7 linked regions of the Homo sapiens genome follow. The protein of the gene in region 3 purifies or fractionates together with the protein of the main gene of each other region. This does not show direct contact. Each region holds a gene or a part of one and is shown on either strand. Other genes may lie near its edges.

The links.
Region 1: the proteins of FBXL12 (region 3) and ALDH3A2 purify together in Homo sapiens (affinity purification with western blotting; one study listed by BioGRID). This does not show direct contact.
Region 2: the proteins of FBXL12 (region 3) and TTC27 purify together in Homo sapiens (affinity purification with mass spectrometry, with the first as the bait; one study listed by BioGRID). This does not show direct contact.
Region 4: the proteins of FBXL12 (region 3) and CAPN1 purify together in Homo sapiens (affinity purification with mass spectrometry, with the first as the bait; one study listed by BioGRID). This does not show direct contact.
Region 5: the proteins of FBXL12 (region 3) and ASTN2 purify together in Homo sapiens (affinity purification with mass spectrometry, with the first as the bait; one study listed by BioGRID). This does not show direct contact.
Region 6: the proteins of FBXL12 (region 3) and HGH1 purify together in Homo sapiens (affinity purification with mass spectrometry, with the first as the bait; one study listed by BioGRID). This does not show direct contact.
Region 7: the proteins of FBXL12 (region 3) and ANXA2 purify together in Homo sapiens (affinity purification with mass spectrometry, with the first as the bait; one study listed by BioGRID). This does not show direct contact.

The regions. Positions count from the first base shown.
Region 1 is NC_000017.11:19,651,751-19,655,250, forward strand, and holds part of ALDH3A2 (aldehyde dehydrogenase family 3 member A2), read left to right. Parts: coding exon 1-28; intron 29-796; coding exon 797-882; intron 883-3,500.
Region 2 is NC_000002.12:32,666,050-32,669,549, forward strand, and holds part of TTC27 (tetratricopeptide repeat protein 27), read left to right. Parts: intron 1-585; coding exon 586-719; intron 720-3,500.
Region 3 is NC_000019.10:9,809,770-9,812,924, reverse strand, and holds the end of FBXL12 (F-box/LRR-repeat protein 12), read left to right. Parts: intron 1-1,207; coding exon 1,208-2,029; 3' UTR 2,030-2,655; downstream 2,656-3,155. UniProt on the Homo sapiens protein: Substrate-recognition component of the SCF (SKP1-CUL1-F-box protein)-type E3 ubiquitin ligase complex.
Region 4 is NC_000011.10:65,184,928-65,188,427, forward strand, and holds part of CAPN1 (calpain-1 catalytic subunit), read left to right. Parts: intron 1-989; coding exon 990-1,123; intron 1,124-1,242; coding exon 1,243-1,411; intron 1,412-2,287; coding exon 2,288-2,371; intron 2,372-3,027; coding exon 3,028-3,113; intron 3,114-3,486; coding exon 3,487-3,500. UniProt on the Homo sapiens protein: Calcium-regulated non-lysosomal thiol-protease which catalyzes limited proteolysis of substrates involved in cytoskeletal remodeling and signal transduction. Proteolytically cleaves CTBP1 at 'Asn-375', 'Gly-387' and 'His-409'.
Region 5 is NC_000009.12:117,405,058-117,408,557, reverse strand, and holds part of ASTN2 (astrotactin-2 isoform g precursor), read left to right. Parts: intron 1-3,500. UniProt on the Homo sapiens protein: Mediates recycling of the neuronal cell adhesion molecule ASTN1 to the anterior pole of the cell membrane in migrating neurons. Promotes ASTN1 internalization and intracellular transport of endocytosed ASTN1.
Region 6 is NC_000008.11:144,136,402-144,140,573, reverse strand, and holds the start of HGH1 (protein HGH1 homolog), read right to left. Parts: upstream 2,801-4,172; 5' UTR 2,739-2,800; coding exon 2,146-2,738; intron 2,068-2,145; coding exon 1,967-2,067; intron 1,860-1,966; coding exon 1,761-1,859; intron 1,566-1,760; coding exon 1,474-1,565; intron 1,386-1,473; coding exon 1,263-1,385; intron 1,187-1,262; coding exon 1,022-1,186; 3' UTR 1-1,021.
Region 7 is NC_000015.10:60,349,819-60,352,986, reverse strand, and holds part of ANXA2 (annexin A2), read left to right. Parts: intron 1-510; coding exon 511-604; intron 605-1,167; coding exon 1,168-1,263; intron 1,264-1,735; coding exon 1,736-1,794; intron 1,795-3,168. UniProt on the Homo sapiens protein: Calcium-regulated membrane-binding protein whose affinity for calcium is greatly enhanced by anionic phospholipids. It binds two calcium ions with high affinity. May be involved in heat-stress response.

The sequences.
Region 1 (3,500 bases), on a different chromosome or scaffold from region 3:
CAGCCACTGATAGGAGCCATCGCTGCAGGTCTGGTGCCACCTTATGTCTATATACCTTTTTAGGGAGGCTTATTTTCTCATATTAATTGGAAATTAAGGATAGTGGCTAATTAAATACATTTACTTGGTGATTTGCCTTTGTTTACACCACCAGTGTACTGAGAATTCATACATACCATACATATTTTTAAATGGGCTGCTGAGGAGATTTGTGTGGCTATGTTTTGAAGCACCTGGGGAATGAACCTGTGGGAGTGTAAAGATGTGTGAGTCAGCAGGCCCAGGAGTTTGGAGTCAGGCATCCATGTTCTAATATGGTTTCAGTTGCTGGCTCTGGCTTCGGATGAACCATTTGATTCTGTCTGACCAGTTTCTTCATTCAAATAAAGACTATGAGAGTAATGCTAGCTTGGGTATATAGCAAATGCCAGGAGATTAATTTCTCACTTTGCAGGATCCAGATAGAGAGATGTATGTTGAAATGGCTCACTTGCCCAATAATTCCAGGGCAGAGAGGACAATCTAAGGGCAGAAGTGGGAGAAAAGCGATAGAAAGCTGGAGGAGTGGGAAAGGCTGCTGGAACCCATTGTCAGTGACCTGAAGATGAGGACAGCTAAGGAGTTAGCCTTAGAAGAGAAAGTGAGATGAGCTCTTATGCTAATTATGAGGATATGCAGCATTGAGAGCTGCAGAAATAATTGGGAGTACCTAGCCTGTTCTTCCCACTGAACATCATTTTGGTAGCTATTAAAGTTAAATATTAGATGATACTGTTCTACTTTTTACTTTATTTAGGAAATGCTGTGATTATAAAGCCTTCTGAACTGAGTGAAAATACAGCCAAGATCTTGGCAAAGCTTCTCCCTCAGTATTTAGACCAGGTAAGAATTTCTTGACTCATCTCCAACATATGTGTTTACTGTGGAAAACACACATTTTATTTTCTTGCTATTGCATGTTATTGCTGGCCGGGGACCCAATTGCAGTCTCTTTAAGCCTTCAACAGTTGGCTTAGCAAAAGAAGTTCGGTTCCAAAATACACGGAGTGTATTTTGTGTGGAGTCACCCAGCTCTTGGGGTTACACAATATATGTAGGCCCATGGCTTCATGCCAAACAGATTCTGTGTTTGTCTGGGATTTGGGGTTAATTTTTGAGCTAACATGATTTTAGGTGTTTTCATTTAATGGATTATTTAATGAGGGACTGGTACTGTGCTGGGTGCTGACATATTTCTGTTACTAACAATCTCTTTTGTTCTAACAAAATGTACTTTTCTGTGATTATATAAGAGTACTTTTTTTTTTTTTTTGAGATGGAATCTTGCTCTGTCACCCAGGCTGTAGTGCTGTGGTGTGATCTCGGCTCACTGCAACCTTTGCCTCCTGGGTGCAAGCGATTCTTCTGCCTCAGCCTCCCAAGTAGCTGGGATTACAGACGTGTGCCACCATGCCCAGCTAGTTTTTGTATTTTTGGTAGCGATGGGGTTTCACCGTGTTGGTCAGGCTGGTCTCGAGCTCCTGACCTCAGGTGATCCGCCCAGCTTGGCCTCCGAAAGTGCTGGGATTACAGGTGTGAGCCACCATGCCCATGTGTCTGGAATTGGTGGGTTCTCGGTCTCACTGACTTCAAGAATGAAGCCGCGGACCCTTGCAGTGAGTGTTACAGTTCTTAAAGATGGTGTGTCCGGAGTTTGTTTCTTCTGATGTTCGGACATGTTCGGAGTTTCTTCCTTCTGGTGGGTTCGTGGTCTTGCTGGCTTCAGGAGTGAAGCTGCAGACCTTCGTGGTGAGTGTTACAGCTCTTAAGGCGGCGCATCTGGAGTTGTTAGTTCCTCCTGTCTGGAGTTGTTCATTCCTCCCGGTGGGTTCGTGGTCTCGCTGGCCTCAGGAGTGAAGCTGCAGACCTTCGCAGTGAGTGTTACAGCTCATAACGGCAGTGCGGACCCAGAGTGAGCAGCAGCAGCAAGATTTATTGCAAAGACTGAAAGAACAAAGCTTCCACAGTGTCAAAGGGGACCCGAGCAGGTTGCCGCTGCTGGCTTGGGCAGCCTGCTTTTATTCCCTTATCTGGCCCCACCCGCATCCTGCTGATTGGTCCATTTTACAGAGAGCTGATTGGTCCGTTTTGACAGGGTGCTGATTGGTGCGTTTACAATCCCTGAGCTAGACACAGAATGCTGATTGGTGCATTTACAATCCTCTAGCTAGACATAAAAGTTCTCCAAGTCCCCACTAGATTAGCTAGACACAGAGCACTGATTGGTGCATTTACAAACCTTGAGCTAGACATAGAGTGCTGACTGGTGCTTTTACAATCCTCTAGCTAGACATAAAAGTTCTCCAAATCCCCACCAGATTAGCTAGATACAGAGTGCTGATTGGTGCATCCACAAACCCCAAGCTAGACACAGAGTGCTGATTGGTGCATATACAATCCTCCGGCTAGACATAAAAGTTCTCTAAGTCCCCACCCGACTCAGGAGCCCAGCTGGCTTTGCCTAGTGGATCCCACGCCGGGGCTGTGGGTGGAGCTGCCCATCAGTCCAGCGCTGCGCGCCTGCACCCCTCAGCCCTTGGGCGGTCGATGGGACTGGGCGCTGTGGAGCAGGGGGCGGCGCCCATCAGGGAGGCTCGGGCAGCATGGGAACCCACCAGGGGCGGGGTGGGGGCCTTGGGCATGGCGGGCTGCAGGTCCCGAGCCCTGCCCTGCGGGGAGGTGGCTGAGGCCCGGCGAGAATTCGAGTGTGGCGCTGGTGGGCTGGCATTGCTGGGGGACCCGGGGCACCCTCCTCAGCAGCTGGCCCAGGTGCTAAGCCCCTCATTGCCCAGGGCTGGCGGCGCCGGCCAGCTGCTCCGAGTGTGGGGCCCATTGAGCCTGCGCCCACCCAGAACTCGCTCTGGCTTGTGAGCGCCACGCGCAGCCCCGGTTCCTGCCTGCGCCTCTCCCTCCACACCTTCCCACAAGCAGAAGGAGCCGGCTCCAGCCTTGGCCAGCCCAGAGAGGGGCTCCCACAGTGCAGCTGTGGGCTGAAGGGCTCCTCAAGCGTGGCGAGAGTGGGTGCCAAGGCCAAGGAGGTGCTGAGAGCGAGCAAGGGTTGCCCGCACGCTCTCACCTCTCACCCAGCCTATAAGAGTACTTCTGCTTTCAAAAAAGACATGTCTGTGGCATGAAAACATGCCACACATACACAAAAAGTGCCCTCCTGAACTAGAGGGCAGATCCTCACACTGACTTAACATGCTGGCATTTAAGAATATCAAGAACTGAATAAAGAAAATGATCTGCCCAACTGCGGGTAGTTCATCTGTCTGAGTCAGAGGTTCTTATGCCTTCCTGGGGAGGAAGTTATGATGCCGCGAAGAAATTGGCACTGCTGAGTTCTACATGCAGTTGCTACAGGGAGGAGTCTTCATTTAGCTTTAAGCGAAATACAGCTTAAAAATATCTTACCTGTATTCTGTACATCAACTTGTGATGGATTGAGGCCAGTTCTGGTT
Region 2 (3,500 bases), on a different chromosome or scaffold from region 3:
TCTTTGTAATCTGACCTTGTCCAGAGAGTGGATGTTGGAACTTTTGCTTTTCTTAAAGTGGTTTGAAAACAGCTATTCTGCAGTAAGTTATTTCAGAGACATAATGAAAAAATTTTGGTCTTACATGAAGTCAGATAGTGTAATAAACTGTTGATATAGAACCAAAAGATCCTGGCTTTAAGCTCTGGTTCTGATGCTGAGAAGCCCTGTGATCATGAACAAATGACTGTATTCTTTAGAACTTTTGTTTCTGTCATCTGTGAAAAAGAGATAATAATAGTTCTTCTACCTACAACACTCAATGTGTTACTTTTTTTTTTTTTTTTTAAAGGGTGGTAGTTTGATGCAAAAATTAGTATGTGGACTGTAGTGGCAGAAATCCTGGGTTTGAGTCCTGGTACCAGAGCTTGTTGGCTTTCTAATTTTATAAGTCATTTAAAACCTGAGGCTGGGCCTCAGGACTTTCTTATGTGAAATGGAGAAAATACCTTGTAAACTCTAAAGCACTCTGAAAATATTACTCTTCATGACTGTACAGTAGATCTCATGGGTAAGTCAGTAGATATAATTTTATTGTTTTTTCAGGTGCTTTGGGAAAAAGAACACGGTTCCAGGAAAATTATGTGGCACAACTGATTCTAGATGTAAGAAGGGAAGGGGATGTCCTTTCAAATTGTGAATTCACTCCAGCACCCACTCCTCAGGAACATTTAACCAAGGCAAGTAGGACATTAAGTTATTAAATTCAATTAACACCTGAGTCTAAGAATTTCAATAGCTGAGTACCATAGAAACACTGAATGGGTTGGGGACAGACTTCATTTTATTCTTTCTTTTGCCTTTTAAAGGTTGCTGAGTCAGGGAGAACTGGTGTTTAACTGGTGTTTTTTTTTCCTAACCTGTGATAGAAAAAACTGGTGTTTTTTTTTTCCTAACCTGTATATAGAGATAAATACTGTTTTTCTTCTAGGATTCAATAACTATGAATTAATGATGCAGTTAGTTATGTATTACCCCTCTTGAAGAAATACGAAAGGCAGACTGGGTGTAGACCAGTTTCTCTATCTGCTATCATATTTGTTTCCTTATGTTTGTCTTCTCTTGGAATCTCTTAGGCTTTTTCTAAATATATAAACATTATCAGAATTCCTTTTCACTAGTTTTGTGATCGGCCTTTTGTTTCTCTGTCATTATTGGGGGGGTGGTTGCCTTAGTATGTTTATTTGACATGTCTAGTGAATTCTCTTCTTTAGTTTGAATTATGACTCTTGGTCAGTTTACCTAATTATAGTCCACTCCAGCTGCTTCCATGAAGCCGTTTAGTATTTATGCATGTGTTTTCTGATCCCAGAAACCCCCAACTACTTTTTTTTTTTTTTTTTTTTGAGATGGAGTCTCACTCTATTGCCCAGGCTGGAGTGTAGTGGCGTAATCTCGGCTCAATGCATCCTCCGCCTCCTGGGTTTAAGCGATTCTCCTGCCTCAGCCTCCCGAGTAGCTGGGATTACAGGCATGCACCACCACGCCCGGCTAATTTTGTATTTTTGGTAGAGACAGGGTTTCTCCATGTTGGTCAGGCTGGTCTCGAACTCGCAACCTCAGGTGATCCACCCGTCTCGGCCTCCCAAAGTGCTGGGATTACAGGCGTGAGCCACCACACCTGGCTGTGTTTGTTGTTTTTTAATGTGGAGTTGTTCTATAGAAAAGTATCTCCCAGTGATTGACCTGGCATGGTGGCTCATGCCTGTAATCCCAGCACTTTGGGAGGCTGAAGTGGGTGGATCACTTGAGGTCAGGAGTTCGAGCCCAGTCTGACCAAAATGGTGAAACCCTGTCTCTATTAAAAATACAAAATTAGGCCAGGTGCAGTGGCTCACGCCTGTAATCCCAGCACTTTGGGAGGCCAAGGTGGGTGCACGAGGTCAGGAGATTGAGACCATCCTGGCTAACATGGTGAAACCCCGTCTCTATTAAAAATACAAAAAAAAAAAATTAACCGGGCGTGGTGGCGGGTGCCTGTAGTCCCAGCTACTCAGGAGGCTGAGGCAGGAGAATGGCGTGAATCTGGGAGACGGAGCTTGCAGTGAGCCGAGATCATGCCACTGCACTCCAGCCTGGGTGACAGAGCAAGACTCCGTCTCAAAAAAAAGAAAATAAACAAAAAAACAAAATTAGCCAGTTGTGGTGGTGTGTGCCTGTAATCCCAGCTACTTGGGAGGTTGAGGCAGGAGAATTGCTTGAACCCAGGAGGTGGAGGCTACAATGAGCAATGAGTGCAATTGCATCATTGAACTCCAGCCTGGGCAACAAGAGCAAAACTCCCTTTGAAAAAAAAAAAAAAGAAAAGAAAATTATCTCCTGGTGATAAATAGGATATGATGAGTATTATGAGAAATGTATGAAAATGATGTACCATTTAATACAGAATTTTAATCGTTTTTTTGCTTGTTCTTTCTTTTCTTTTCTCCTTTTCTTCTTTCTTCCCTTCCTCCCTCCCTCCCTCCCTCCCTCCCTTCCTTCCTTCCTTCCTTCCTTCCTTCCTTCCATTTTTAAATGGAGATGAGTTCTCACTATATTGCCCAGGTTTGTTTCAAACTCCTGGGCTCAAGCAATCTTCTTGCCTCAACCTCCCAAAGTGCTGGGATTCACCATGTAATACATGTTACAGGGTTAATGTGGTTAACATTTTTAATATATTACATGTGGCTATCAGAAATTTTTTCAGAATTATTTTATTTTAAAAATTTTGGCTGGGCGTGGTGGCTCACGCCTGTAATCCCAGCACTTTGGGAGGCCGAGGTGGACGGATCATGAGGTCAGGAGATGGAGACCATCCTGGCTAACACAGTGAAACCCCGTCTCTACTAAAAATACAAAGAATTAGCTGGGAGTGGTGGCAGGCGCCTGTAGTCCCAGCTACTCCGGAGTCTGTGGCAGGAGAATGGCGTGAACCCGGGAGGCGGAGCTTGCAGTGAGCTGAGATCGTGCCACTGCACTCCAGGCTGGGCGACAGAGTGAGACTCCATCTCAAAAAAAAAAATAAATCAATAAATAAAAAATAAATTTTACCTGTTTATCTATTTAGAGACCAGGTTATGAGACTGGCTAATTTTTGTATTTTTGGTAGAGATGGGGTTTCACCGTGTTGCCCAGGCTGGTCTCGAACTTCTGGGCTCAAGCCATCCACTTTCCTCAGCCTCCCAAAACTGTTGGGATTATAGGCATGAGCCACTGCACCGGCCAGAATTTAATCTTTTGTATGTGAAATAAAATACATTCAGATAATCTTATGGTCTTTGTTAATTACTACTTGAAGATGGAGAGTACAAGTTGTATGCTGTAGGTATGGATTAGATAGAAACATAGCTTTATTCTAATGGGTGGAAGAGAATTGTTAAGTTGGTTATATATCATATTACCTTGTGTTAAACACATTATTAGATTGTAATATACACCATCTGTTTAATAACCATTTTTCAGGAAAAGGAAAGGAACACTAC
Region 3 (3,155 bases):
ATTTTGTATTTTTAGTAGAGACGGGGTTTCTCCATGTTGGTCAGGCTGGTCTTGAACTCCTGACCTCAGGTGATCTGCCCGCCTTGGCCTCCCAAAGTGCTGGGATTACAGGTGTGAGCCACCGTGCCCAGCCTTTTCATTTGTTGTTTTTTTTTTTTTTTTTTTAACATAGACCTAATTTACTCTGGGTAGTTTTCGGCTTTTAAAATTTTATTCTGTGTTGCTTATTTCTACTGGAGGTGATCATTAAGAAAGGGGTAAAATATCAATGGGTTGCTCTGCTCTTTTTCTTAGTCCAGAAAAAACGGTAAAAATTTATTGCTAAAGATAGATTCTGTTAGTATCTTTTTTTCCCCTACCAGATTTATCTTTTTTTTTTTTTTTTTTTTTTTTTGAGACAGAGTCTCACTCTATCGCCCAGGCTGGAGTGCAGTGGTGCGATATCGACTCACTGCAACCTTTGTCTCCTGGGTTCAAGTGATTCTCTTGCCTCAGCCTCTTGAGTAGCTGGGATTACAGGTGCTTGCCACCACGCCCAGCTAATTTTTGTATTTTTAGTAGAAACATGGTTTCACCATGTTGGCCAGGCTGGTATTAAACTCCTGACCTCAAATGATCCATCCACCTCAGCCTCCCAAAGTGCTGGGATTACAGGCATGAGCCACTGTGCCCAGCCCCTACCAGATTTATTCTAAGTGGCCGAGTGCAGTGGCTCACGACTGTAGACCCAGCACTTTGAGGGGCTGAGATGGGAGGATTGCTTGAATCCAGGAGTTGGAGACCAGCCTGGGCAACATAGCAAGACCTCATCTCTACTAAAAATCACAAAAATTAGCTGGGCATGTGTCAGAAGTCCCAGCCACTTGGGAAGCTGAAGTGGGAGAATCACTTGAGCCTAGGAGGTCCAGGCTGCAGTGAGCCATTATCTCACCACTGCACTGTAGACTGGGTGACAGAGCAAGAACCTGTCTCAGAAAAAAAAAAAAAAAAAAAGATTTGTTCAAAGCCCTAGCAGGCAAGATGGTGCACTCAAACCATCTGGTTGAACCTGGGGAGGTTGAACCTGGGGAGGAGACTGGCTAGGCAAGGGCAGAAGCCCAGCAGGGCACCAGAATCCCCCACCCCGGGGTTGTGTGTCTCCAGCCCAGCAGGGGCCTTGGAAGCTCCATACCTCTCACTCTGTCACCCCAATCTCTGGCTCTTACAGATGCGACCTAAAGTCATGTGGCACCTCCTTCGAAGGTACATGGCATCCCGGCTCCATTCCCTGCGGATGGGTGGCTACCTGTTCTCTGGCTCCCAGGCCCCCCAGTTGTCCCCTGCTCTGTTGAGAGCCCTGGGCCAGAAGTGCCCCAACCTGAAGCGCCTCTGCCTGCACGTGGCCGACCTGAGCATGGTGCCCATCACCAGCCTGCCCAGCACCTTGAGGACCCTGGAGCTGCACAGCTGCGAGATCTCCATGGCCTGGCTCCACAAGCAGCAGGACCCCACCGTGCTGCCCCTGCTTGAATGCATCGTGCTGGACCGCGTCCCCGCCTTCCGTGACGAGCACCTGCAGGGCCTGACGCGCTTCCGGGCCTTGCGCTCGCTGGTGCTGGGTGGTACCTACCGTGTGACCGAGACAGGGCTGGATGCTGGCCTGCAGGAGCTCAGCTATCTGCAGAGGCTTGAGGTGCTGGGCTGCACCCTGTCTGCCGACAGCACCCTGCTGGCCATCAGCCGCCACCTCCGAGATGTGCGCAAGATCCGGCTGACCGTGAGGGGCCTCTCTGCCCCTGGCCTGGCTGTGCTGGAGGGAATGCCGGCCCTGGAGAGTCTGTGCCTGCAGGGTCCCCTCGTCACCCCAGAAATGCCCTCCCCCACTGAAATCCTCTCCTCCTGCCTCACTATGCCCAAGCTCAGAGTCCTTGAGCTGCAGGGGCTGGGGTGGGAGGGTCAGGAGGCGGAGAAGATCCTGTGTAAGGGGCTGCCCCACTGTATGGTCATCGTCAGGGCTTGCCCCAAAGAGTCTATGGACTGGTGGATGTAACTACTCCACCTGCCCTTGGGACCCATCCCAGTTTTCATCATTGAGCCCCAGACCCTCTGAGCAGCACCTTGAAGAGGGCAGATAATCAGACTTGAGGAAACTGAAAGCCCCAGGTTGAGAGAACAGAGGCCTAGGGACCTCCAGACCATTGGAATCACTGTTTGCCAGCTGTGTGGCCTTGGTCATATCATCAGCCTCTGGGAAGCCTAGTTCCCACATCTGGAAATAAGGATGATCATAGCTACCTCACGGTTACATTGCAAAGCCTTACTCTAAAAGCTCCCAGCCTCCAGAGGCTCTCAATGAAGAGTCACCTTCATGGTCGTCTTCAGGAACAGGACGGATGAAGAAGGGGTGGGGTTAAGACTCAGGGGCACCTGAGGGTCTGAGCCCCCTTATGAGTACCCAAGAAGGACTGTCTATGCATGCACACCCACAAGCCTATACACCATTTATATACCTACACGCACGCAAGAGACGCGGAGAGATAGGCGATGCAGACTCGCGATTCAATGATCGATATGCTCATAAAAGTGCTCAATTATATTTTCTGTATTTTGTATGCTGTATTTTCCAAGACGTATATTATTTTACTATTAAAGAAAAAAATCATTTTTTTTTCCCGAGAAGTATTCAGTTTATTCATTCAACCAATCTTTCTTGAGCTTCTGCTATTTTGCAGGCACTGTTCTAGGTTCTGGGAAACTGGGCCACCACAGTGAACAAAACTGACAAGACCCTGCCCTCGTAGATCTCATAGAGGAGAAGACAGGACAACAAACAGGTAAGCCAGTCCATGCTTTAGTTTTTTTGTGTGGGGACAGAGTCTCACTCTGTCACCCAGGCTGGAGTGCAGTGGTGCGATCTTGGCTCACTGCAACCTCCGTCTCCCGGGTTCAAGTGATTCTCCTGCCTCAGCCTCCCAAGTAGCTGGGATTACAGGCACCCGCCACCACGCCCAGCTAATTTTTGTATCTTTAGTAGAGATGGGGTTTCACCATGTTGGTCAGGCTGGTCTCAAACTCCTGACCTCGTGATCTGCTCACCTCGGCCTCCCAAAGTGCTGGAATTACAGGTGTGAGCCACTGCGCTCGGCCACCATGTTGTAATTTTGGAGACTCTGAGC
Region 4 (3,500 bases), on a different chromosome or scaffold from region 3:
AACTTTTCCAGGATCATGTAGCTAGTATGTCTCGAGCATACATGTACATATCAAGTATACACATGTCTATATGTGGTATGCATGTATTAGTATACAGCAAATATGCAGGTATCTAGTATACATTGTACAGGCAAAGGAAAGCATCCCCTTAGCCCTCTGAAGGTTCACTGAAAAATCAACTCACAAAAGGAGGTTAGTAGGAGAAATGGCATACAAATTGATTAGCCTGCAGCGTGGGGTCGGGAACCACAGAGTGTTCACCCCAGCCCCACAATGGGTACAGAAGCCTATATACCATCCTGAGGTTACAGGAAGAATGGGGGCTCGAACATGGCCAAAACCAGTTTCTGGTGGTAAATCAGGTTATAGTGGCAAGACAGACTATGGAAGGGGGAGAAAAGGGGGCCTGGGTAGCAAAGGCAGTCTTGTTATGTAGATGAAACCTCACAGGTAGCAGCCCTCAGAGGGAATAGATGGTAATTGTTTCGTTCAGACCTTTAAAGGGTGTCAGGCTCTCAGTCTGACAAGGGAAGGCCTTAGAGAAAGCCTGGCTACATCAATGCAGATTTTCTCTACAGATGCAAATCTCCCCCACAAAAGACAGTATTACAGGGCTACTTCTGTTTGCAGACCCTCTGAACAGCTATCTCAAAATATGTTGAAGAAGTATATTTCAGGGTGAAATACTTTGATTTCCTTCAATACCTAGATACATGTATCTAGTATATCTGTAGCATACATGTATCTAGAGGTACACATGCATCTAGTATGTATCTAGTATATGTGATTTAGTATACATGCATCTACTATGTATCTGGTATACCTGACCTAGTATACATCTAGTATGTATCTAATTTACATGATTTAGTCTATGTGTATCTAGTATGTATCTGGGATGTAGAATCCTGCATCTAGGAAGGTAGGGGTAAGGATGGAGCTCAGGTCCGGGGGATTCCAAAGCAGGTACTCACCGTGCCCCTCCCCCACAGCTGTGGCAATTTGGGGAGTGGGTGGACGTGGTCGTGGATGACCTGCTGCCCATCAAGGACGGGAAGCTAGTGTTCGTGCACTCTGCCGAAGGCAACGAGTTCTGGAGCGCCCTGCTTGAGAAGGCCTATGCCAAGTGAGTAGCGGCTGAGGGGGCAACTCCAGCTTCCAGCTCCCCCTAGGGGTGGGGGCTCATGACTGTCTTCTCAGAGGGTCCTGCTTGATGCCAGAGTGCTGACCTGGAGCTGCCCACAGGGTAAATGGCAGCTACGAGGCCCTGTCAGGGGGCAGCACCTCAGAGGGCTTTGAGGACTTCACAGGCGGGGTTACCGAGTGGTACGAGTTGCGCAAGGCTCCCAGTGACCTCTACCAGATCATCCTCAAGGCGCTGGAGCGGGGCTCCCTGCTGGGCTGCTCCATAGACGTGAGTGTGCCCGGCCCCGATGCTTTGGTACCCTGGAACCCTGGTATCCTGACCTGTCACATTTTCTAAAATCCCCACCCAGGCTCCGCTCCAGACCCTGTCCTGCACTTAAGCTTCATCTCTGGATGCATACCCTGCCTCATCCATCACTTCCACCCCCCATGCCTGGTGTCGCTCCTGTCCTCACCTACCCACTCCTCCCCCAAAACTTCACACCTCAGCTCTTTCCTGTGCTTGTTTTCCCGTCTACCATGCTGTTTCCCTCATTCCTGTCATCTCAATCCATGCCATCCTCTGTCCAGTTCACCAGCCTCAGATTTCATCTCCTGGTCTCAGTTCCCACCCATCCCTAGCCTCAATCCCACACTCACTCCATTCCCACCCTTCCCTGCTCCTCTGTTCCCACACTCAACTCCGCTCCCCAGTCCTCAACGCCAGACTTGACCCCAGTATCACTGCCATCCGCAGCTCTAACCCCAGCTCCCATTCCCATTTCTAACTGACTCTTCTGTCCTCACGTCCTTCTCCGTGAGGCCCACTGAGGGCTGTGTGGCTCTGGTGGGCTGTGCACGGCTGTGTGTGTGCACATGCATGTTCGCACAGGTTCTGGTCAGCCCTGGCCAGTAGCAGTGTCAGCGGAGTGCCTGGGCTCCCCTGTCCCAGTGGCAGCATTGGTGGGGTACCCAGGCTACCCCTCTCCAAAAGAGCAGCATCTATATGTGGGGGTGTCTATAGGTGGGATCGGGGTCCCTGCTTGCTTCTCCTAGCAACTGTTGTATGTGCAAGTGGGAACGTCCAAGACCCTGAGTGCTGGGGGCTCATCTGATAGGGCGGGGGGACCTAGCCACTGACCACAGTGTGTGCCTCTTTCTGCAGATCTCCAGCGTTCTAGACATGGAGGCCATCACTTTCAAGAAGTTGGTGAAGGGCCATGCCTACTCTGTGACCGGGGCCAAGCAGGTACTGCCCTGGGTGGGGCCTTCCCTGAAGGGCGGTTCCTGCCCCCTGGCCTGTCCTTGCCTCTCTGGCACCTGACCAGGGCTGTGGAAGGTGCTGGCTCCTCCTTTCCCCTCCTGCAGCACCTTATCTCTCTTCTGGGGACACCCATCTGAGATGCCTATCATGTCCTGCCCTGACTGACTGTAGTTCATGTGTGCAGCTGCCTGCCTGGGCTGTGAATTCCAAGAGGACAGGCTTCATCTGGGTGCTGAGCAGGGCTTGGAGAGGATGAGGGTATGGGAGGCGGAGTGTTAAAGTGCGTGCATGGGCCAGGTGCACTGGCTCACACCTGTAATCCCAACACTTTGGGAGGCTGAGGTGGGCAGATCACCTGAGGTCAGGAGTTCGAGACCAGCCTGGCCAACATGGTGAAACTCTGTCTCTACTAAAAATACAAAAACTACCTGGGTGTGGTGGCAGGTGCCTGTAATTCCAGCTATTTGGGAGGCTGAGGCAAGAGAATTGAATTGCTTGAACCCAGGAGGCGGAGGTTGCAGTGAGCTGAGATCGCACCACTGCACTCCAGCCTGGGTGACAGAGCAAGACTCTGTCTCAAAAAAGAAAAAAAAAAAAAGTGCCTGCTGGAAGCTAGCACTGACAGGAGCTCTGGCAAATAGGTGAACTACCGAGGCCAGGTGGTGAGCCTGATCCGGATGCGGAACCCCTGGGGCGAGGTGGAGTGGACGGGAGCCTGGAGCGACAGGTGAGGGGCAGTGGGCACTGTCTGGAGTGCCTTGGGGAAACTGTTAGGTGCCCCGACATTTCTGCTCGGGACTCTACCAGGCCAGGCTGGACTCAGGATTGAGCAGAGGGGCCCATCTTCGCGCGACTGGGTCTGGGGGACTGCTCTGACAAAGCTCAGGCCGTGCGGGCCCCTGTGCCCAGCCGTCGGGTGTGTGCAGGGCATCAGACTGGCCCTGATGAGACCACCCCCTAGAAGCGGAACCTTGGCGCTTGACCTTGAGGAGGCCACCTGGGCTGGGCCGGGGGAAGACAGGCCAGGGTAGACAGGCCCCAGGGACAGAGGCCAGGCAGGTCAGTGCCCACCAGCCCTGGCAGAGCCCTGCTCCTCACAGCTCCTCAGAGTGGA
Region 5 (3,500 bases), on a different chromosome or scaffold from region 3:
CTTCTCACCTCCTTGCTTTGTTATACACTAAGCCTTGTTTGCCATAGGCCATTGTGAATATGTGTGATGTGGGGAGAGGAGGATAGACTGACAGCGACCTCTTGAATGAAGTCTGGAAAACTGTCACCACAACCGTCGACTTTGATGGGCTCCCAGCATCACAGACTCACAAGGCATTGAATTCAACCCCTCTATTTTATATGGTAACACTGAGGCCTAGATAAGGGAAGAAACCTACCCTACAGTCCAAATTTAAGCCCAATTGTCTTGAAGCCCACACTGCCTCTTTCTATCACATTGCTGGGCCTCTCACAGAAGGCATTGGGTTTAAACATATCACAGATTCTACAAGTTAGTTCAGCATCATAAAGGGGGACACTCTTTCCTCTCCCCCTGCCAAAAAAAAAAAATCTACAAGGAAAAATCTCCTTAGGGAAATTGAATTGGTTTTCCTGCCTGAGTATCCAACTGATTGGCTCCAATCTATCCTAAGCACCTGGGCTGATGGGTTTTGTTCTGGGGCAGAAGGAAGCCTCACTGCCTCTCACCCTAGCTGCCTTTGGGGGTGGGTGGAGGAAATCTGCTCTTTTCAGGAAAGGAAAAAAAGAGTCGGGTTTAACCTTGGGGTGGAGCAGCATTAGAGGAGGCTTCCTTTCCAGAGCTGATACTCTCCCACGTTCTCATACTGACCAGCTAGTGGCAACAAAAGATTAACTATAGTGAGAGAGAGAGAGCTGGTTTTTCTTTCCTTGCAATGGAGCAGACAGCCTCTCTGCCCCCAGAAAGAGGCAGGCAGCAATGCTCAATGAGAGTTGTTCTATTTTCTAGCACTTGTTCTCTCCTTTCACTGGCTTTTCTCTACTGACTATAGCTCTTTTGGACAATAGCCCCCCAAAAGAACTCCCTTTTGAATGGAAAAGGAGTGGGTGATGACTACACAATGCAAGATTCAAAACTGAAATATGTGTAGCTTTCTTACTAGCATACTGGAATATGTAAGCATCCAAGTCTGTGAGTTGAAATTTGACAAGCATGTTGTAGGTTACAAACTATGAAGGGAAACTACTTCTTCATCCCCAGCACTGCAGTCACTGTCAAGGTCAGGCCTCAACACTTCTCTCTACTACAATTACAACAGTCAACGCACTGATCTGTCTACCTCTAGTCTTATCCCCTCTAATCCATCCTCCGTACTTGCAGACAAAGTGATTTTATTAAAAGCCCAAATCTGATAATGGCCATCCTCTTGTAAAGCACTTCACTGCTTCCCCATTGTTCTGAAGGTGTTGAATTTCCCTCTCCCTATTGTAGTAGTACAAGGTCCCTGATCACACTCTGCCAGATTGTCCTTTACTAAGAACCCTTCCTTCTTATTTGGCACCTCTACCTCACCATCCCCTGGGGAAATTCCTTCTTGCTTTTCAAGACCGAATTCAGGTGTCAACTTATTTTTGAAGCCTTTTCTGACCCCTCTGCACCAGAGTTGAACACTCTGAGCCTTGGTGCCCACTATCAATAAAGACTGCTATAATCATAGCCAGGCCCTTTGAATCACTGAGCACCAGTGATGTGAGAGTCACTGTTCTATGTGCCTAGGATACATCAGAGAACAAAAGACAAAGATCTCTGCATTCAGAGAGCTTTTATCCCTCTGTGTTGTGTGTGTGTGTGTGTGTGTGTGTGTGTGTGTGTGTGTGTGTTAGGGGACAATGACAACAGACATAATAAGTAAATAAGTTATGTAGTATGTGAGAAGATGAAAAATTCTATGGAAAAGGGAAAAAACTAAGGGAAAAGAGAATCGAGAGTTCTGAGATAAGGAGACGGGTTTTAATATTAAATAGGATAGAATGAGAAGAGCTTATTGAGAATGTGAGATTGGAACAAAGGCTAAAAGAAGGGGAAGGAGTTAGCCAAGCAGCATCTAGGAAAAGCACATTCCAGGCGGAGAACAGCTCCTAGCTAGATAATCCTAGCTGATTATCTAGCTTAGGAGCACACCTGGACCTTTCAAGGGACAGCATGAAGGTCGGTGTGGCTGGAATGCAGTGAACAAGTGGTGGTGGAGGAGGGGGGTGGCAGGACAAGACGTCAGAGAAGAAAAGAACAGTCATGTAGGGCTGTACAGACTACTGTCAGGATTTGGGCTTTGACTCTGAGTGAAATCAAGAGCTCTGTAGAATTTTAAGCAAAACAGTGCCAAGGTCTGACTTATGTTTCAAAAGAATTCCCTACGCTGCTCTGTACAGGACCAACGATGGGTGCAGGAAAGCCTGAAGGAGTCTCTACTGATGAAAAGTAATGGTGGCTTGGAGCAGAGTGAGACCAGAATTTACGCTGTGTGTTTCCTCATGTGTCTCACGCTGTTTGCCTATGTACCCTGTGAGCAGCTAATGTACCTCCTTCATCTCTGGGGCTGTGGTGACTCACCCTTTACTTGGCACATTGTAGGTGTACAGGAGATCTTAGAGAACTAGAACTCTGTGTTTGCTAAGTGTCATCCCAGAATCCACAGTAGACAAAACTTGAGATGGGCTGAATTTGCACTACCCTGTTAAGAGTGAGCCTAAACACTATCCATCCCACAGAGCCTTCCCTCTTCTAAGCACCCATAGCCATTGCTGCTACCTTCTCCTGTCTCCTGATTATTTTGGGGTGATTGCAGGATGGCTAATGAGAACAATGTGATTAGAGGAAAGATCATTGTGTTTGGAGAAGACTCTGTCTTGAGCAGCTTGGAAACCAGGTAAATGATTAGAAACTTTGCATTGTAGCAAACGAAGAGACAATACAAGTTTCAGGGAAATGATACACCATGGTTCCAGGATTATCAAATATCAGAAATGGAAAAATTTAGGACATTATCTAACTGAAACACTTCTATATAAAGATGGGGAAATCAAGGTCACCAAGCCTGTGGTAAAGCAGATGCCAGATCCCAGATCTACTGACCCCTATGTGTTTTCCTTCCATCTTAGGGAAGGGCAGCTGGGAAACTGGGGACAGGAGGAGTTGGAATTCCAGAGTTGTAATGTAACTGGACTTTATCATCCTACATAGGATAGGCTATGAAAACCGTGACCATTTTATGTAACATGTACTATGTCCCAGGTGCCATGATGGTACATTTGTTATCTATTCTTTCTACAGTGCTGAAGGACAGATGTAGCTCATCCCATGTTATAGGGTGAGTTCTGAGGCTCAGAGGAGTGAAGGAACCTACCCAAGATCACACAGCTATTATACAGCTAAGCTCAGTCCAAATCCAGGTCTGCCTGGTTCCATAGTCTATGTTCTGTCTGCCTTGCATGCTGCATAGAACAAGAGATGCTCTCAACTTTTCATCTCTAGACTTTTTTACTTCTTATGTCATCCTCTTCTCATGACCAAGAAGCTGCAGGCGTTTCTTATATAGGAACTTCAGGTGTGACAGCCTCACAGGCCCAAGGGACTGAGCACCTTGTTCTGTGCTGCCAGGAGCTGACTTAGCAGCTCCCCAG
Region 6 (4,172 bases), on a different chromosome or scaffold from region 3:
GCTAAGCTCCTTCACCAGGGCTTGACGGGCCTGGGAGGGCCCATCAGTGAGCAGGGGCCAGCCCTCAGGATCCCAATGCAAGAGGTGGCAGTGAGGTCAGGTCAGCTCAGGAAGGGAAGTGTGGCAAGAGCCACCATGACAGCCTGTGGGGCTTGGCAGCCACATAACTGGCAGGTGAGGGATGCACATAGGTCCAGGGGAGAAGCACGTAAGGCGCCTGGGCCTATAGTGGGCTCTACCACAGGGGCAGAGGGTGGCTGGGGGAGAAGCTTGGGCAGGGACTAGGCTGCAGGCACATCTGGAGGCTCTTGGCAGAGGTAAGAAGGCCAGGGAGGAGTGGCCCAGGCTCAAGGAAGCTGACCAGGGAGACGGCCTAGCTAGAGAGGCCAATGAGAGCACCCACTCAATCTGAGACTGGGAAACAGGAAGACTTAGGGAGCTGACAAGGGTTGAGGGCAGGGTCCTGGAGCATAGGTCAAGCAGGGAGGCACAGTCCTAGAAAGACCCCAGGATCTACGTATGGCTGGGTCAGCCCTTTGAGGCCAGGTCTCAGGGAACAGGGAGCTGAGAGCTGCAGGGAGTGAGGCTGACAAAGCAGCACTTGTACCTATGCGCCCACCTCTGCCCAGACTCTGCAGTGCCCTGGGGATTGGGAGGCTTCAGCTGGCTCCTTGGGGCTTGCAGTGGTTTTCTGTCCAGTCCCCACGCCGTGCCCAGGAAGAGTCTTCTCATGGCTCCCTGGCCATCCGCCTGCCACCTCCACCTTCTGCACAGGCAGCCGAGTCACGGTGCCTACCTCACAGTACTGCTCTGCACAACCTTCATTCTTGCTGGTAGCAACACTGCACAGGGCTGGAAAGTGCCTCCAATCCTTACTGGAGCCTAAGCGTAGCTCTGCTTCTCAGAAGAGCACAGTCTCTGAACAAGGGGACCCAGGGGGCCTGCAGACAGCTGCAGGAAGGCCTGGTCTGAGAAAGCCTGGCAAAGGGGACCCTGGAGCTGGTGTCCGGCTGCAGGGGCCTCAGGTGGGTGTGGCCCTCTCCACCCATGGCTCTGGGGCCAGCTCCCGCTCCAACTGCTCCTGCTCCCTGCAATCCAGCTGCTGCAGCTGCTGCTCCACATCCTCAGGCACCTGCACCTCCAGCAGGTTTTCCATGCCACGTTCAGGCTCGTCCCCAATAAGCACCTGCCAGACGGGAAGCAGGTGAGCAGCTGGCCAGCTACAGACACCCCTTCCCCAGCCTCTCCAACCCTGCACCAACCTGGATGAGCTTCTCACAAGCCGTCCGCACGTCGGGCTCCGGCTCCCAGCTGTGCAGCTCTCGAAGGATCAGGTAGGCTCCCTGGTCCCGCACCTGCTGCCGACCTGGTGCTGTGGCTGTCAGCTGAGGAGGTGGAAGAGGTTACCCAGATGTCAGCATGCTCATGTGTGTGTGTTGGGGTGGTGCTTATTGCAGCAGGGCTCCTGCTCACCAGCATGATGGCTTCAACAAGCATCTTGCGGATGTCTGCATCAGGTTCTCGCTGCTTGTCTGGTGGCAGGTACTGCAAGTCGACAGGCAGCCCTAGGGGTGAGTGTGTGGGAGCCACTGTGTCCCTGGGCTGGGCAGCTGAGCCAGGCTCTGCCTGTGTAAGTCCCACCTGTGCTCAGCAACTCACTGCTGCAAAGTTTCAGGAGCCTGTGGCCTGGACACCTCTCTCTCCCTCCACTGGCCTCCCTCCTCTCCGGCCAACTCTGAGGCTCCACACTAGCCACTCACGTTCCATCTCTTCCTCGGAGAAATCCTCAGGCCCAGCCAAGGGCAGGAGCAAAAAGGGGAGAATGTCCACCTCAGGTCCAAGCAACCACTCGTGATGTCCTGAGGGATGGTGAGGGTGGGGAGACGGGAATGGAAACTGGTCCAGAGCAGCCCCGGAGTCCAGTCCCCACACCTGGCAACGCACCCCCGCCACACCCACCACTCACGGTGCTCGAAGCAGCAATTCCGCAGCGTCCCCACCACCCCGCCCCTGCGTACAGAGGAGTCGGGGTACTGGGTAAGGGGCAGCAGCCGCTGGACCACGCACCTGTTGGGAGGTGTCACTTAGGGCCGTCCCCCCTAACTTCCGTCCCCTCCCCGCCCGCGCGGGCGCCCTGGGCTTCACCTGTCGGGGTCCAGTAGGAAGGCCCGCGCCGCAGGGCGTTGGCTGAGGTTGGAGAGCAGCGGCGCTAGGTAGTGCAGGGGCGCGCGGGCGTTGTAGCCGGGCGTGCACAGCGCGCGCACCAGCCGCTCCAGGCCCGAGTCTGCCGGCTCCGCGGCCGCCAGCGCCGCCATGAGCGCTGCACACGGCGCCGGCTCGCGACTGAGGTTGGCTAGCGCGGCGGCCGCCTCCTCGGCCCAGGGCCACTGCGGGTCCAACGCGCGGCCCATCAGGCGCGCTGGCAGCCCGGGGTCGGCCGCCAGCAATGTCTCGTGCAGGCCGGGGTCGGCGGCCAAGTTCACGAGCGCGCGGGCGGCGTCCCGGGCCGGGGCAGAGGCCGGCGCCAGCTCCATCAGCGCCTGCAGCAGCGCCGCCTGCCCCGCCAACAGCGCGCGGCCGGGTCCGCAGCCAGTCAGCGCCAGCACGTGCCGCACCGCCGCCGCCTGCAGGTCCGCCCGCGCGCCCGGCGCCAGGAAGGGCAGCAGCTTCACCACCTCTGCCTCCGGGCTTGCCTCCGGCCCTCCCGAGGCGCCAGCGCCAGCCCCGGCCTCCCCCATGTCGAGCGACACTCTGCTGCCACCCGACCGGTGCCAGCGGTCCGCTTAGGGGTCCGCTGTGTGGCCCGCAACCCCGCCCACCAGAGGAGCGAAAGCCGCCCTGGCCAATCCGAGGCTGCGCACTGGGCTCAAGGGGCGGGACCGGCGTGCGGAGGGGAGGGGCCAGGCCGCGCGCGGGGAGTTATGGGTCTCGGCGTCTGGCCGGAAGCTGCGGAGGTTGGAGACTGAGCGCTGTGATGTCCCGAGCCATGGGGACCGAGGCCCGGCGCGATTTGGCCGCCTGCCGCGTCCACACTCGCTGGAAGCGTCCATGTAGTCTCGGCTAGGTCGGCCAGTGCTTCCCACTGGGCGCTGGCCACGCCGAACCTGGTCAGCCGGCCCTGGCTTCTCGTGGGCCCTGAGGGTCTGAGGCCCGCGCCCCGGCTCCTCGACTAGGCTGTCGGGTCAGAGAAGGGCTGAATGGGGGAGTGGCCACGGGCCTCTCGGAAGGAAGGCCTGCTCTTGTCCAGGCTGGCACGGCCACCGAGAAGCTCAGGCCGTCCAGGGACAGGACAACACAGGGCCCCAGTGGGGACCTGAGGAGGCAGCTTTGGAGAGGCCTCTGGGCATCTCTGAGCTGGTAGCTTTGGGGCATTTGTCAGGACGTCTTCAGTCGCAAGTGACAAACCCAACTCAAACTGACTTGCACGAAGAGAAAATTTGTAAATGGAGGTTTGGAGGGAGCCAGCTTCCGGCACTGCTTTATCCAGGAGCTCTCTGGAGCCTTGTACTGTCTACCCTACCATTGCTCTCCCTCTCTGCTGCCCTGCTGCTCTGTGGCTCCATATCATTTCCACCTGCCACTGGCCGATTTTCTCAGAGCAGTTGGGAAAGAAAGACACTGGGACCTCCCAGTTCCATGGTCGTGGCAGAAGAGTTTCTCTGTCCCAGTATTGGAGTCTGCCCCAGAAAAGGACTCCAGTTCTTCACGTGTCCTCCACTGTGGGCGGAGCAGCAACCTTCTAGAGACACACAGACTGGGAGGAAGGGAGGGCAAAAGAAGGGCATTCCCTCACTCCAGCATTTTTTGGGCACCAGCCATCTGCCAAGCTGGTAGCTCAGGACACGGAACCAAACAACTTTGGTGGCCATTCTGGCCTCAGGGTCTTTGCACTTGCTGTCTCTTCTGCCTGGAATGCTCTTTTCTCAGCTGTACACAAGGCTGGCAACTTCTAATTATTTGTCAGAGCTATCTTCCCTGGGCAACTTACAGAGACTCAGCCCACCCGCCACCCATGACTGCTTGGTTTCTGTCTGCCTCCTTCAAGATAGCAGTACTTAGGCCAGGTGTGGTAGCTCATGCCTATAATCCCAGCGTTTTGGGAGGCCAAGGCAGGTAGATCACCTGAGGTCAGCAGTTTGAGACCAGCCTGGCCAACATGGTGAAACCCCTCT
Region 7 (3,168 bases), on a different chromosome or scaffold from region 3:
ATTGTTAGGGCTACTTGTAGCCCCTAAATTTTCCAGAAACTGAAAGTGAGATGAGATGGGCTCCTTTTCCAGCTCCATCACTCCCTGAGTCTCTGAGAAGCTTGAGAATGAGAGCCTGGTCTGTAGCTGTCCAGTAAACATCTGCTAGCTTATCTGCCCCTAAATGTGCCCAAAGGGAGGAGGGCCAGATGTGTTAATGAACATTTACTTGTTCTTCTTTATATGAATACAAGCTCTTGGTCCCTCCTTTCTTATTCAAGGAAGGAGATTGTACAGCAGACCTCACGAACTATCTGCAGTCTCATATGGTATCCATCTGTGCCTAAGGAAGACTGCTTGTGATTAAGACTTTTGACCTAAATAGTAGGTCTCTGCCCATGTCTGCAGTATAATCATCTTTCCTCGTTTGGCATTTTGAATGTGTAGCTTTTTTTGTTTTTTTTGCATGACATTTTTTTTGACGTTACATTGGATGTGTAGTTAACTTTTCCTGGTTGGTTGTACTCGTAGGATCTCTATGACGCTGGAGTGAAGAGGAAAGGAACTGATGTTCCCAAGTGGATCAGCATCATGACCGAGCGGAGCGTGCCCCACCTCCAGAAAGGTGGGCACTGTGCTGAGGGAGTCTCAGTGCCTTGGGGCCCTGGCTGGGGCGGCTGGGTGGATGTCCATGTTGGGATGGAGTCTGCCAGAATGAGGTTCTGTCTCCGCTTGGCACTCTCATAGGCTCACCCATTTTCCCTCACCTTTCTCTCCCATTCTGGATTCTTTTCTCTTGCAAATAGTTTCTGCATTTGGTGCTTTATTCTGCAGCTCCTTCTTGTTTGATGATCATTTGGTCTTGCCATTATTTGTTGAAGTAGTGGACTTTGGTGCATGCTCTGTACTGTTTCCTATGGTTTTCGGATGGAATGGGTTCCACTCAGGGGAGATAGAGATGGTCCAAATATGTGGCCTGGGCAGTGCCATTCAGGACAGGTGGTATGGCTGTTCCACGACAAACTTGGCCAATGTTGGCTCTGGTCACCGTGGTAACCTCTAAGCTCCTAGGATGCTGTGATCATCCTCAATTTTTAAAAAAATTATGGTGCATAAAACTAGGTGGGTGATCGTTGACAGCTTTGACTAGTGGCTCGGATCTGATAACTCTTTGTTGTTTTTCCTCAGTATTTGATAGGTACAAGAGTTACAGCCCTTATGACATGTTGGAAAGCATCAGGAAAGAGGTTAAAGGAGACCTGGAAAATGCTTTCCTGAACCTGGGTAAGTGAATGTGGCCCCCATTCCTGGTAGACATCAGCTACCAGAGCAGAAGTGACAGATGGCCATCCTGTTAATCCAAATGTGTTTGGGAGGTGTGGCTTCTATGCATGCTTTGGATAGTTTTACAGTCTTAATTGTATAGATTTCAGAATATAAAACTGAAGAAAGGCCTAACTTGGTAACAGATTGTTGCCAGGGAGGAGTAAGAGAACAGGAGGAGAGAGGGGTGTGTTGTGGAAACTCACGTATGCACTTGGGTTCTGCAGGCCTCAGAGACCCCTGGTTTAAAACCGTGGTGGAACTTAGTATTGCAGAGGATTTCTAGATTTCCCTTAGCCTGTCCTATTTTGCAGCCCTTTTCCATTGCATTAGGTCACTTCTGGTTTGTGGCCCAGGGCCAGGGCATCCTCTCTCATTGGTAGAGGAGAGACCAGAGCAGCTGCAGCGCTGACTCCCTTTCTTCTCTCCACAGTTCAGTGCATTCAGAACAAGCCCCTGTATTTTGCTGATCGGCTGTATGACTCCATGAAGGTAAGGGCAGCTGGCTGAGAGAGCTGTGTTTCCACACTCAGCTTTTCTTCTTTTGGGTCCCAAATTGAGTCTCCTTGATTCATGGATGGAGGAAGGGGACCCCACTGTGTGGATGCAGGAACACACTAGTCAGCTGTGGTTGTATGTGACAGCTGAGAGAACCACAAATCTGTCTTCTTTCTCTCAGCTGCTTGAACATGTATTTGCGTACAGACAAAAAGTAAAGTGCCATGGGAGAGAGAAAATGCGACATGGTAGTCGTGTCTGATCCCTGCTTAGGTTTCTCCGTGATTTCTTCCTGTTACTGCCAGAGTCAAGACAAGCGAGGAAGGGAGCGATTATTAAGCACCCACTATACAGTGGACAAGTGCTACTATTTTACCTTAAATCATTGCATAACAACCTCTGAGGCTTATGATTATCTTCTTTATAAATGCAGAGATGGAGCTCAGAATACCTCAGCCTGCTTGAAGTTACACAGACAGATTTGAACCTGGGTCTATCAGACCCCAAAGACAGCCCCACAACCCTTCCCTAAACGAACCACCTCTTCCCGTAGACCCATCCCATTTTCTACACCTCAAGTGTGCCATGTGTTTTCTGGCTTCTAGGCTTTTGCATTTTCCTTCTGGAACATCTCCCTTGTCTGTGCTGCCTCTGCCATCTGTCTTTGAGTTCCATATCAAATAGCACCCCTTGGTGCCTTCGCTCTGATGCTCTGGAAGTAAACTCAGTGGTCTTTATTGCACATATCATTAGAAATGGCACAGAGCGATGATAGAAATGTGTTGGCATGTTCCCTCTAAGCCTGCAAGAGTCAGGAACCTCTTGTTACATATGGAGACTCAGACTGCTTGAACTGAGCCTTGCAGTAGTAGGTGCTCAGTATATATTTATTGAATGGTGGCATAGAGTGGGAGTCTGTGCTGACTACAGCCTGGTGTGTTTGGAATTCCCAGATGCTCTTCTTTCTTTTCTTTTCTTGTCTTGTCTTTTTTTTTCTTTCTTTTTTCCTCCCTCCCTCCCTGCCTTCCCCTGCCTCCCTGCCTTCCCCTCCCTCCCTGCCTTCCCCTCCCTCCCTGCCTTCCCCTCCCTCCCTGCCTTCCCCTCCCTCCCTGCCTTCCCCTGCCTCCCTGCCTTCCCCTCCCTCCCTGCCTTCCCCTGCCTCCCTGCCTTCCCCTCCCTCCCTGCCTTCCCCTGCCTCCCTGCCTTCCCCTCCCTCCCTGCCTTCCCCTGCCTCCCTGCCTTCCCCTGCCTCCCTGCCTTCCCCTGCCTCCCTGCCTTCCCCTGCCTCCCTGCCTTCTCCTGCCTCCTTGCCTTCCCCTGCCTCCCTGCCTTCACCTCCCTCCCTTTCCTTCCCCTCCCTCCCTTTCC